Homo sapiens: one gene and its partners. The protein of the gene in region 3 purifies or fractionates together with the protein of the main gene of each other region. This does not show direct contact. Each region holds a gene or a part of one and is shown on either strand. Other genes may lie near its edges. The genes, in order: XRCC4, ASAP1 and CWC27.

Region 1 (3,658 bases), about 18 Mb from region 3:
AGCAACTACAATCTTATTTTGTGATAAGGCAACATAGCTAATTTGTCTGATTTATCTACTAGACAACAAACTGCTCCACAACAAGAACACGACTTATCCAGTTATATTCTTATAAGCGAGCACCACACACACACACACACAAATACATATAGAAATGCAATACACATACCCAATGAAAGTATTCTACTTGATATATTCAAGGAGAGATTAATAAAACAGCAAATGTAAAACACTACATATCTTCAAATTTAGATACGTAAGACAAAACATACAAAATTCTCTATTGTTTTTAATTCATCCCATACTGCTCAAATGAGCTAACAAGGGATTGTATTTATTTTAAGCTCCCAAGAGATATATAAAGAAAGCAAAATAGCTGAGGTTGTATATACTTAATATATGCATACACATACATGATGAATACATTCCTATTTTATTGATTCAAATACAAATTATTTTATGTATTCTTTTCAATGTTGTTTCATACTGCTTATTTACATTGTTGTTGTTTTACAGGTATCCTAGTATTTTTATACTGTACATAAACACACACACACATATATACCAGTAGTAATATATATGTGTGTGTACATATATAGACACACACATATATATTTCAGTGAAATTAGAAACACAAATGTCCAAATTAGATAGCTTTTATATACATGCCCTTAAACTTTCAACAATCTACCTATCTAGAGATGCAAAGAATTAGAACGTATCATAGGATAAAAAGGAAAATATGGCAATATATTCTCTGGGACCAATTTCAGCAAATTCTTACAGCACAGTCTTTGCCAAAGATGTGAACTCCACGAAAGCAGACAGCATGTGTGTTTTATTGGCCACTGTATCCTCAGTGCCCAGCATAGTGTTTAGCATTCGACAGATGTTTGGTAGGTTCTTATTAGACAAACGAATAAAGTGAATAAATTAATATGGACATCTTTTTGGTTTATTTATTTTCCCAGTGGTTTATTCGTTTTCCCAGCTTTTCTGCAGAGTTATTACAAGGCCTCAACAGTGCTTTAGTTTTTCTTTTCAATATCCTGTTCTGCAGCTTCCTTGGTCCTTTTTGCCCAGAGGCCAAAGAGCCAGGCATTGATATGGCAGGTTTTTTGTTTTTTTTTTTTTTGAGACAGACTTTCGCTGTTGTTGCCCAGGCTGGAGGGCAGTGGCACGATCTCCACTCACTACAACCTCTGCCTTCTGGTTTCAAGCGATTCGCCTGCCTCAGCCTCCCGAGTAGCTGAGATTACAGGCACCTGCCACCATGCCTGGCTAATTTTTGTACTTTTAGTAGAGACAGGGTTTCACCATGTTGGTCAGACTGGTCTCGAACTCCTGAGCTCGTGATCCATCTGCCTCAGCCTCCCAAAGTTCTGGGATTACAGGCGTGAGCCACCGCACCTGGCCTGACGTGGCAGTCTTGAAGTTCTCTTCCTCCTTGGTGATGACTCTGGCTTTCTCCTTCGTATAGGTATTTCATATGAACATTACCGGTCCTGTCAGTGTGATGGCCAATTTGAGTTCTTCAGTGTAGCTGTCTCTCTTCTCGGAGGCTGAGGTTTCTAGAGAAGGAGGATAAGCTTCCAGCAGTACTCCTACAGCTGTTATACATTGGCCTGCAGGGACTCAGTAGACTTGTCTCACCTCCTTGGATCAATAGAGAAATCAATGGTCCAGGCCATCTTCTTGTGGATGCTGGCCACCCTTAATTCTTCCAAGCTGAAGCCCCTACCAGCTTGTACTTGGTGTGAAACCTCATGTGGGGCATTTTACTAGGGGCCAGTGGGTCCAGATACAAGGCACCGGGCAATGCAGTGGGCTTGCCCAGTCCCATGTCTGTGGCTCTTCCTTGCAGGCTGGGTGAACCATATTGCTATAGGCCACTGCCAGTACTTACAAAAGTGGGGCTTCAGGATTATGCCATTCCTGCTGGGCACCATGGCTGACTATAGCCCTCCAGCAAAGAAGAAGAGCCAAGGAGAATGGCTAATATTGACATCTTATAAGGAAACAGAAAAACAGTGATTCCGAATATTGTATTTTTTCCCTCATTTAATAGCTATTCACCATTGTAAAAGTAATGTTTTTCATCTTCAGCTTTTAAAAAAACTGTGGCAAATAATATCAATCTAACAGTATTCCCTTCATTAAGCAAAGTTCTCTGAGAAAGAAGTACACGAAAGATGTTAGAAAAAAACTGAATATTGAAAAGGAGCTAGCAATATTGATAGTTTATTTTAAGCAAAGACATGTCACTACATTTATATTTCAGATTCAGTGTTACGTAAGCATGATATTCTTATCTTCCTATAATATTTTCAAAAAAACACAACAAAAAACTTTAAAACATACATATTACTGAAATACCTGAGTATATAATAACATACTTCAAACATATGCAAAGTAAAAACCAATATGTGAAAACATATAAACAAATATATTACAATTTCTTATATTAAATTTTAGGAATGGTAACCAATTAGTAATTTATCTGGTTTAAGTCCATATTTAATTTCCATATAAGTCACTTCAATAATTCTTGATTGAATGATGATGTGTACTTAACAACTAACAAGCTAATTCCCAAACCTTTATTAAAATTAACATTTGGTATGACACATTCAAAGTGAAAATAAATATGAAAATGAAATATCATATAATATTCCTAAAGAATATTGTTAATCTTAAGTAACCAGTATCAGATCTATGTTGTCAAAGGAAACATTTCTGTGACAGGAAAACACAGTCAATAGAATGAATGGTATCATGTGAGTTAACCTTGCTTGGTTTCAGCAAAGCTTTAGGATTTTTTTGCAACCAAACTTCTGATCATCAAACTGGACAACACTTCCTAGAAAAGTGGGGGAGCGGGAGCTGACTGGAGAAAAAGTATTAGTGTGAACAGTTGCATGACATGAATTTACTCTTAACTTTTAATTTTTCAAGACTCAGAGAATGCTATCCTTTTATCCAATAATCAGTAACTAAGAGGTATGTCGTATCATTCCCACCTAATTTTTAATGCCAATCCTCTCCTAGAGCATTATGATGTTACTATGCATTCCATTACGTGCTTCCTGTCAAGCTTATGCCTCAAGAAATTGGACAGGAACTGTTAGGTGAGAACATTTAGTGGAGAAGAGACATGGGATTCACTGCTAAGTCTGGTGACACTAACAAAAAGCCCATGTACAACTAGATCAGACCACACTAGTCCAAGGATCAAATCCAGGCAAATCTCAAATTGGGACGAAATCACAAATAACATCAAACAAGAAAGGTCTAATGATACTTCATCCTTTCTACAATAACTAGGAAAACAGAACAATAATGCTAAATTTAATTAGCAACCTAGCACTGAGGTATCTAAAACCTTGGACAAAAAAATAGTAATTTTTTTTAAAAAATTAAAAGGATAAAAAAATACAAAAAAATACTGAATATTCAAAATAAAATGTCTCTGGGTGGGAAAACAATCTAAGAATAACATGTCAAAACAATAACAAACTAGGAGGAAAAACACAACAATTTCATGCAGAAATAACACCAAAAATGAAACAACAGATTAAATGATAGCTCAAAATAAAATAATAGATATATAAATGTGAACATATGGTATTTAGACACAGTGCAGTAATCCTTAAATTAA
Region 2 (3,658 bases), on a different chromosome or scaffold from region 3:
GTAGTTCCCTTGACTCGAAATCTACTCATTTAAATGGTAATTGCATCTAAAAAATTCCTTTACAGCAACATCTAGACTAGTATTTGACCAAACACCAGGACACTGTAGCCTGTTGACACATAAAATTAACCATGAAGCTAGGCATGGTGGCTCATGCCTATAATCCCAGCGCTTTGGGAGGCCAAGGCAGAACTATCGCTTGAGACCAGGAATTCGAGAGCAACCTAAGCAAAATGGTGAGACCCTGTCTCTACAAAGTAAATGGATCAATCAATAAAACGTGGTGGTGCTATTTGACAAGCTGAGGCAGGAGGATTGCTTGAGCCCAGGAGTTTGAGGCTGCAGTGAGCTATGATTGTACTACTGCACTCTTGACCTGAATGACAGAGCAAGACCCTATATCTTAAAAAAAAAAAAAAAAAAAATTAACCTTCAAAACAAGTAATTAGTAAGTAAATAACAGTTGTTATTTATTGAACATAATCATGCACTGTATAATAACATTTCAGTCCACAACACACTGCATACTCAATGGGGATCAATATAAGATTAAAACGGAGCTGAAAAATAGCCATCACCTAGTGATGCCATAGATGTCATAATACGGTAGTGCAACACATTCCTCAAATGGTTGTGGGATGCTGGTATAAACCAACCTACTGCACTGAGTTGTATAAAAATGTACAGTAATGTCCTAGGCCTTCACTCACACCCAGAGCAGCTTCCAGTCCTTCCAGCTCCATTTATGGAAAGTGTCCTACATAGATGTACCATTTTTTAATCTTATATAACATGTTTTTATTTTACCTCTTCTATGTTTAGATACACAAGTAATTACCATTGTGTTACAGTTGTTTACAATGTTTAGTATAGTAGCATGCTGTACAGGTTTGTAGCCTGGGAGCAATAGGCTATACCATATAGCCTAGGTGTGTAGTAGGCTCTCCCATCTAGGTTTGTGTAAGTATACTCTATGATGTTCGCACAAGAACGAAATCACCTAACACATTTCTCAGAATGTATGCCTGTCATTAAGGAATGATGTTCATTAAATATGGATTAGACAGATTTAAGCACTTACGTTATCTCAGATCATCTTTATTGAAAGTCCATAACTGAGTGCTGTGGCTCACACCTGTAATCCCAGCACTTTGGGAGGGTGAGACGGGTGGATGCCTTGAGCCCAGAAGCTTGAGACCAGCCTGGGCAACATGGCGAAACCCTCTCTCTACAAAAAATACAAAAATTAGCTGGCCGTGGTGGTGTGCGCCTGTGGTCCCAGCTGCCCGGGAGGCAGAGGTGGGAGAATCACCTGAGCCCAGGAACTCAAGGCTGTGATGAGCCAAGATTGTCCCATTGCACTCCAGCCTGGGTGTGGGTGTCTGAGTGAGACCCTGTCTCAGAGGAAAAAAAAAAAAAAGTACATAAGGGACATTGTTATCCCCATTTTACAGAAGAGAAAACTTACAAAGAGAATTTAGCAACTTGTCTAAAGTCTCCCAGCTAGTAAAGACAGTTTGGAGGATTAAACCCAGTTCTCACTGAGTTTTCCTTATAAGCAGTTAACTACCTCTGAAAGTTCATTCATGCATTAATTGATTGCCTATGTATTGGACATTTCCTGTATCACAGGCAGGATGTAAGGAATGGCCAAAGAGGTCCTCAAGCCTTAACAACTTTAAGAGGAAATAAATTATAATACAATGTGATAATCATTATAAGAGTATGGAAAAATTCCTGAGAGCTATTCAGAGGACCAAGCAGCTGCCTCAGTCTGCCTTCTCAAGGACATTGGAGATGGGTTTCTAAGGATAGGTGGAAGCTTGCCAGGGAAAGAAGTGGGGTGGAATGCATCATTCCAGAACACCACGTGCCAAGGGAAGGAGTCATGGTAGAGTCTGGATGTCGGAGGAATGGAGAGAAGCACTGTGTGTGAGATGCATTCACCTGGCTGGGTGGGGAGAGGCAGGCAGCTGCCTTGTAGAGTCAGGCAAACCAGATCAGGATGGCTTTGTGGGCAAGGTTTGGCCTTTGGGTTTTTGTGCAAGCAGTCAGAAGCCCACAGAGGTTTATTGTCTAAAGAGCAAGGTTTCCCACCAGCTCTGGCTGCAGTGTGGAGAATGGACTGGAGGAAGGAAACTGGAGAAGGGGCCATTCTGGAGGCTAGAGCTGCAGTGGGAGCTGGTGAGCACCTGTACTAGGAGGGGCTTCAAGGGATATTTCCAAGGGGAATGCAGGAACCAGGGACTCCAGGTGACACTGAGGTTTCTAACCTGGGCAGTTGAGTGGATCCTAATGCCATCACCACAAGCGCAAATACCAGAGATACCTCATGGGCCATTGGTTTGGAACACAAGTCACTGGGGTTGTATTTACAGATCTGTAAGTAATTATTGTGTAGCGGGCAGTGGGTGTGAATCCGTTTACTTTGCAGGGGGATATAAAATGAGAAAAGAGGCAAAGAAAGAACTTCAACGTTAAAGGGTTGAGCAGGGAACAAAACTTAATGTAGCAAATTAGAAATAGGTGGAAATACTATTCAAATGTTGCTGAAAAAGTCCTGCATTCTGAAGGTGTTTGCTTATTAAAAGTTAAATCTACCTGTGACCTTACTGTGCTTCTGACACTGCTGCTGATCCTAACCAGTGTTTCACTAGTGTGATTATTCATAGTGGTGAACGATATGAAAGTGTGGTATCTAGATCCTTCCCTTGTACTGTGTCAGCATCATGAGGCTCATTGTGGCTGACCTCATAAAGCTCAGAGAGCCACAGGAACCCAGATTCCCACCTGAGCCCGCCCTGCGGAGGCCCTCTGTACACATGAAGGGTGGTCCTTGATTATTATCTCACCTTCTTATTTCATCTGCCAGCCAAGCCCTATCAAGAAAGAGCGCTCACCCAGACCTCAGAGCTTCTGCCACTCCTCCAGCATCTCCCCCCAGGACAAGCTGGCACTGCCAGGATTCAGCACTCCAAGGGACAAACAGCGGCTCTCCTATGGAGCCTTCACCAACCAGATCTTCGTTTCCACAAGCACAGACTCGCCCACATCACCAACCACGGAGGCTCCCCCTCTGCCTCCTAGGAACGCCGGGAAAGGTATGGGCTTTGAGAAGGGCTTGTGACTCCATCCTCGAAGGGCTTGTGACTCCATCCTCAGAGCTGATAGTCTAGCCAGCTTTGAGGTAAGAATTGCAAGGTACATTTGAGTGGCGCGGATCGTGTTGTCAGGAGCAGCTTGAAATAGGGACCATGCCATTTGCCAGGTACCAAGAGCAGGACAGGCAGTGCTGTGGGCTCTCTTTGTGCATTATTTGTGTTAACCTTACAACAATCCTGTGAAGTATGTGCTTTTGTGCCCATTTTACAGAAGAGGAAACTAAGGCTCAATGAGATACACTGACCAGCCCAAGGTCACACCACTGGTAAGAGGTAAAGTTGAGATTCAATCTGAGGTCCACGTGGCTCCAGAACCTGTACTTTTTATAATGTGGAGTGGAGTTTCAGTTCTCTGGAAAGTTACTTTTCTCTACATTAAAATGCCACTCTTTTGAAGACGCTAGTAATAATAGTGGTAGTTAATAGTTATGGAGCACTTGCCTTATGAGAGGCTCTACGCCTAGTACTTCTTTTGTAATCATCTCAAAATGAGGTAG
Region 3 (3,658 bases):
CATAATTTATAAAGTTCCTATTTTAGTGTCTTGGAGACACCCTCATAATTATTTATATTTGCAAAGTATAACTGGATATACAATGCATATTTTAAAAATTATAATCTGTATTCTAACAACTGTATTTAGTACACAGTACATAAGAAGTAGAAAGGAAGACCAGCTGATTTTTGCTTAGTCCCTTCTCCCATTGCAGGGCAGTTGGGCTGCATTTACAAGAGCTCCCTAGTGCAGACAAATTCCCTCTGGTTACAAATAGATACTATAAAAACCAAAAGGTCTTAAAGTATCTCTCCTATATTCCTAGGTAACCATTTCATCAGTTACACTAACACTGTATGTAGCAGTCAGGAGTTTGAGTCTTGCCTTTTGCTAGCTATACAGTCTTAAACTCCATTTTCTCATAAATCTAATAACATAAATTAAGGCACAGTGTCAATCTGAAGATTAAATAATATGAAAGCAAACTACACATTTTCAAGTTCAACACAAATGTGAGGTCAAACTAATATCTTCACTCAAATGCTACAAATTCATATTCAAATTTGAATATAAAATATACCCCAGTATATATCATATAATGAATATTCATCTAGACCCATAATAAGCAGCCAACCAATACTTTTTGAGCACTGTGCACATGATCAGATTTGCATTTTCAAAATGTCACTCTTACCCAGTGTGAATATATTAGAAAGAGACATGACTGGAGAGAGAGGGGGAGTGAGAGAGAGAGAGAGAAAGAAAGCAAGAGACAGCGCAAGTGCATGCGACAGAGAGCCAGTGAGAGAATGCAAGCAAGCAACTACTATCCTGAGGTCATTACATAACTATGGCTTATCTTGAGATACACAGATTCAAGAACTACTTATGAAGCAAGATCCATAAAACCCAGATATATGTTACCTGTGACGGAAAAAGGACATGAAAGAGGTCTTTATTACTTGTGTTTTCAAATTTTAGAATTTCACCATTTTCTTTCTTTTTCCTATTTCCCATTAAGTATTTCAGTGATGCTGGCTTTTTATTTTAAGATTTTCTTTATGATTTTCCTAGTTATATTCCTGTTGAATGCATGAAATTATTATACTATATATAAATGAGTAAAAATTTTCTATACTCTCTACACTATAACTTTGTATTCTAACATAGCTGGAATTTCCAATGTCCACAAATCTTCCATATCTACTATTTCTACTTCTTTGTAATTTATTAGTAATCACTATTGAACTATGCATTTATAGTTGTATTTATAGTTTATAATACTGTATATTTTGCTGCTTGCAATGTTTATTTGATTTTCTTAAATTTTTATGCATCATCACAAGTGTTTTGAAAAAGCTTTATTATTTCATTATGCACGTTCATAATATCCTCCTGAATGTTCTCCACTATTGAAAAAAGATACCTAAATGTATCTTAAATATGAAACAAAGTTCCTATTTGATTGCTGTCATTCTAGTATTTGTCACATGGTTTCTATTTCTGGCTACAATAATCTATGGGCATTATCATATATTTTGACTAATTATATTTCTTGCCCAAGTTCATAGAGGAATTTATACTTGCACTTTAAAGTAGTTATACGTTTCTTCTTCTAGAATCCTGTTTTGTGTTTAACTATGTAAATGTTATCATTAATAACTTTTTATCTAACACTCATCTTGCGACCAGTCTGCACTATCTGGTATTTTTTTAAACAAATATTTTAGTTTTGTAAAGAAATTTCTTTTAACTTATAGCATATTTATGCTTATATTTGTCACTCTAAAGAATTAGTAAACTATTATTAAAGAATAAAAGATAAGCAATGAAGTGTGGACCATGATGAGACAAGAATGATGTGAAATAAAGGTGAAGAGATTAGTAGTCACACAATGTATTAAACATTTTGATTTTCTTATCCACTTCTCCCTCTGCTCCCCACTTGTCTATAAAACAAACATAAAATTATACTCCTTCCTCACACTGGAGGAACTAATGAAATTATCAAAGCTAATAAGCTTCCCTTTCATTCCTTTATATCTTTTTTGCTCTATTTTTTAATTGATAAGTTTTTAAAAGTTCCACTCATTTTAAATGTCCACCTAACTATGCTGCAAAGACCAAAAATCTAAGATTAAGTCTGTATAATGTAGATCCTTTGGTTTTTTAAAGGCTATAAACCATCCTTTGGCTATGAACATCATTTTAGTTGAGGGCCATATCTGAGACTGCGCTCTTACTTGTTCATGTTTTATTCATTTGCTTTTAAATTCTGGAAACCATGCTTTAAAAAAATAAATATGAGTGTTTCAAGATCTAGAAACATTATGACTCGTCTAAATCATAGAAGCAAAGAACTAAAATGGGGTTTTCTGGATTATATTTTTGAAACCTTGACTTAACTTATTTAGGAGTATCCTTGTTTAAATCAGTCTTCTTAGGCTTCATGTTAGCCTTTCCAATAATAATTCTATCTCTATTCAATTAAGAGGATTGGTGAATTTGATTAAGATAATTGTTGTGGTTATTTTTAAAATTATTTTTCTATTCTTTCTTCTTTCTCCTTGCATTATTATAAATAGGGGAATAATTGTTGTAATAATTGAGTTTTATCATCACCCAACTTAAGAACCTCATTTCTTCTTCACTGTCACATTGTATCCAGATGTTTTCTGCTTCTTCCATTCACCTGGTCATGGATTGCAATTTACCATTCATTCTTTCTAATGTTTTTGTAATTTTACTCTCCTTCTGTAAAACTTGAGCTTTTGAATCTTCAAAACTTCTTACCAGAAACAAGTCTGACTTTTTCATGTCTCCTGTGTTTCTCAACTTGGTTAACAGATATTTGAGGCCTCTCTGACTGAACTACCTACCTGACTCTATTTCCTTCCTGCCTGCCACAGCAATTATTAATAATGGTCTTTGCAGATGTCCTTTCATTCTCTCTCTCTCTCTCTCTCTCTCTCTCTCTCTCTCTCTCTCTCTCTCTCTCTCGCTCCACTCCTCCCCACCTCTCTCTTTTGGAGAGGGGGTGGTATCTGGGTATTTTTCATTTCTTAAATCTTCACCTGATAATTACGTCTATTTAGAGAGATCTCATCATACCATACTACTGGATTCTCTTTCACACCTTGCTTCTGACCCAAAATGTTGTTTTCTGATACCTTGAATAAAACTGTCTCTAAAAATCAAATATAACTTAGAAGAACAATGATTTGCCACCGCTGGAGATATTCCAAACCATATGTAATGTATTCTAGAAGCCAACAAAAAGCTCTAAAAATGGAAGGTTTACTTCCCTAAGAGAATACTCTGCAGGGAAAAACACTTCAGTGGATGTATAATTCTGCAGCATTTTAAAAAAAGAAAAATAGTTACTTTATGACTCAAATCTAAAAAAACTAGAGACATTGATAATAATATCACTGGATGCTAGCTGGAAGGCTGTGTGGAGAAACTAGAATTTTGAACAGACATTTAAAAATGGGTAGACTTAAACAGTAAAAAAAGGGAAGAAAAAGCATACCAAAAGAAGGGGAACTAGTATGAGGACATGTATGAAAGTGGAAACGGAAAGGAAATGCTTAGGAAATAATGTCCAACTAAAACCATGTGGTTAGTGCAATGAGCTAGAAAGTTGGATAGCTAGGAAGCCAAGCTGCCTGAGGAT

The links.
Region 1: the proteins of CWC27 (region 3) and XRCC4 fractionate together in Homo sapiens (co-fractionation; one large-scale study listed by BioGRID). This does not show direct contact.
Region 2: the proteins of CWC27 (region 3) and ASAP1 fractionate together in Homo sapiens (co-fractionation; one large-scale study listed by BioGRID). This does not show direct contact.

What each region holds. Positions count from the first base shown.
Region 1 is NC_000005.10:83,199,520-83,203,177, reverse strand, and holds part of XRCC4 (DNA repair protein XRCC4), read right to left. Parts: intron 1-3,658.
Region 2 is NC_000008.11:130,111,537-130,115,194, reverse strand, and holds part of ASAP1 (arf-GAP with SH3 domain, ANK repeat and PH domain-containing protein 1), read left to right. Parts: intron 1-2,872; coding exon 2,873-3,101; intron 3,102-3,658. UniProt on the Homo sapiens protein: Possesses phosphatidylinositol 4,5-bisphosphate-dependent GTPase-activating protein activity for ARF1 (ADP ribosylation factor 1) and ARF5 and a lesser activity towards ARF6.
Region 3 is NC_000005.10:64,775,393-64,779,050, reverse strand, and holds part of CWC27 (spliceosome-associated protein CWC27 homolog), read right to left. Parts: intron 1-3,658. UniProt on the Homo sapiens protein: As part of the spliceosome, plays a role in pre-mRNA splicing. Probable inactive PPIase with no peptidyl-prolyl cis-trans isomerase activity. As a component of the minor spliceosome, involved in the splicing of U12-type introns in pre-mRNAs.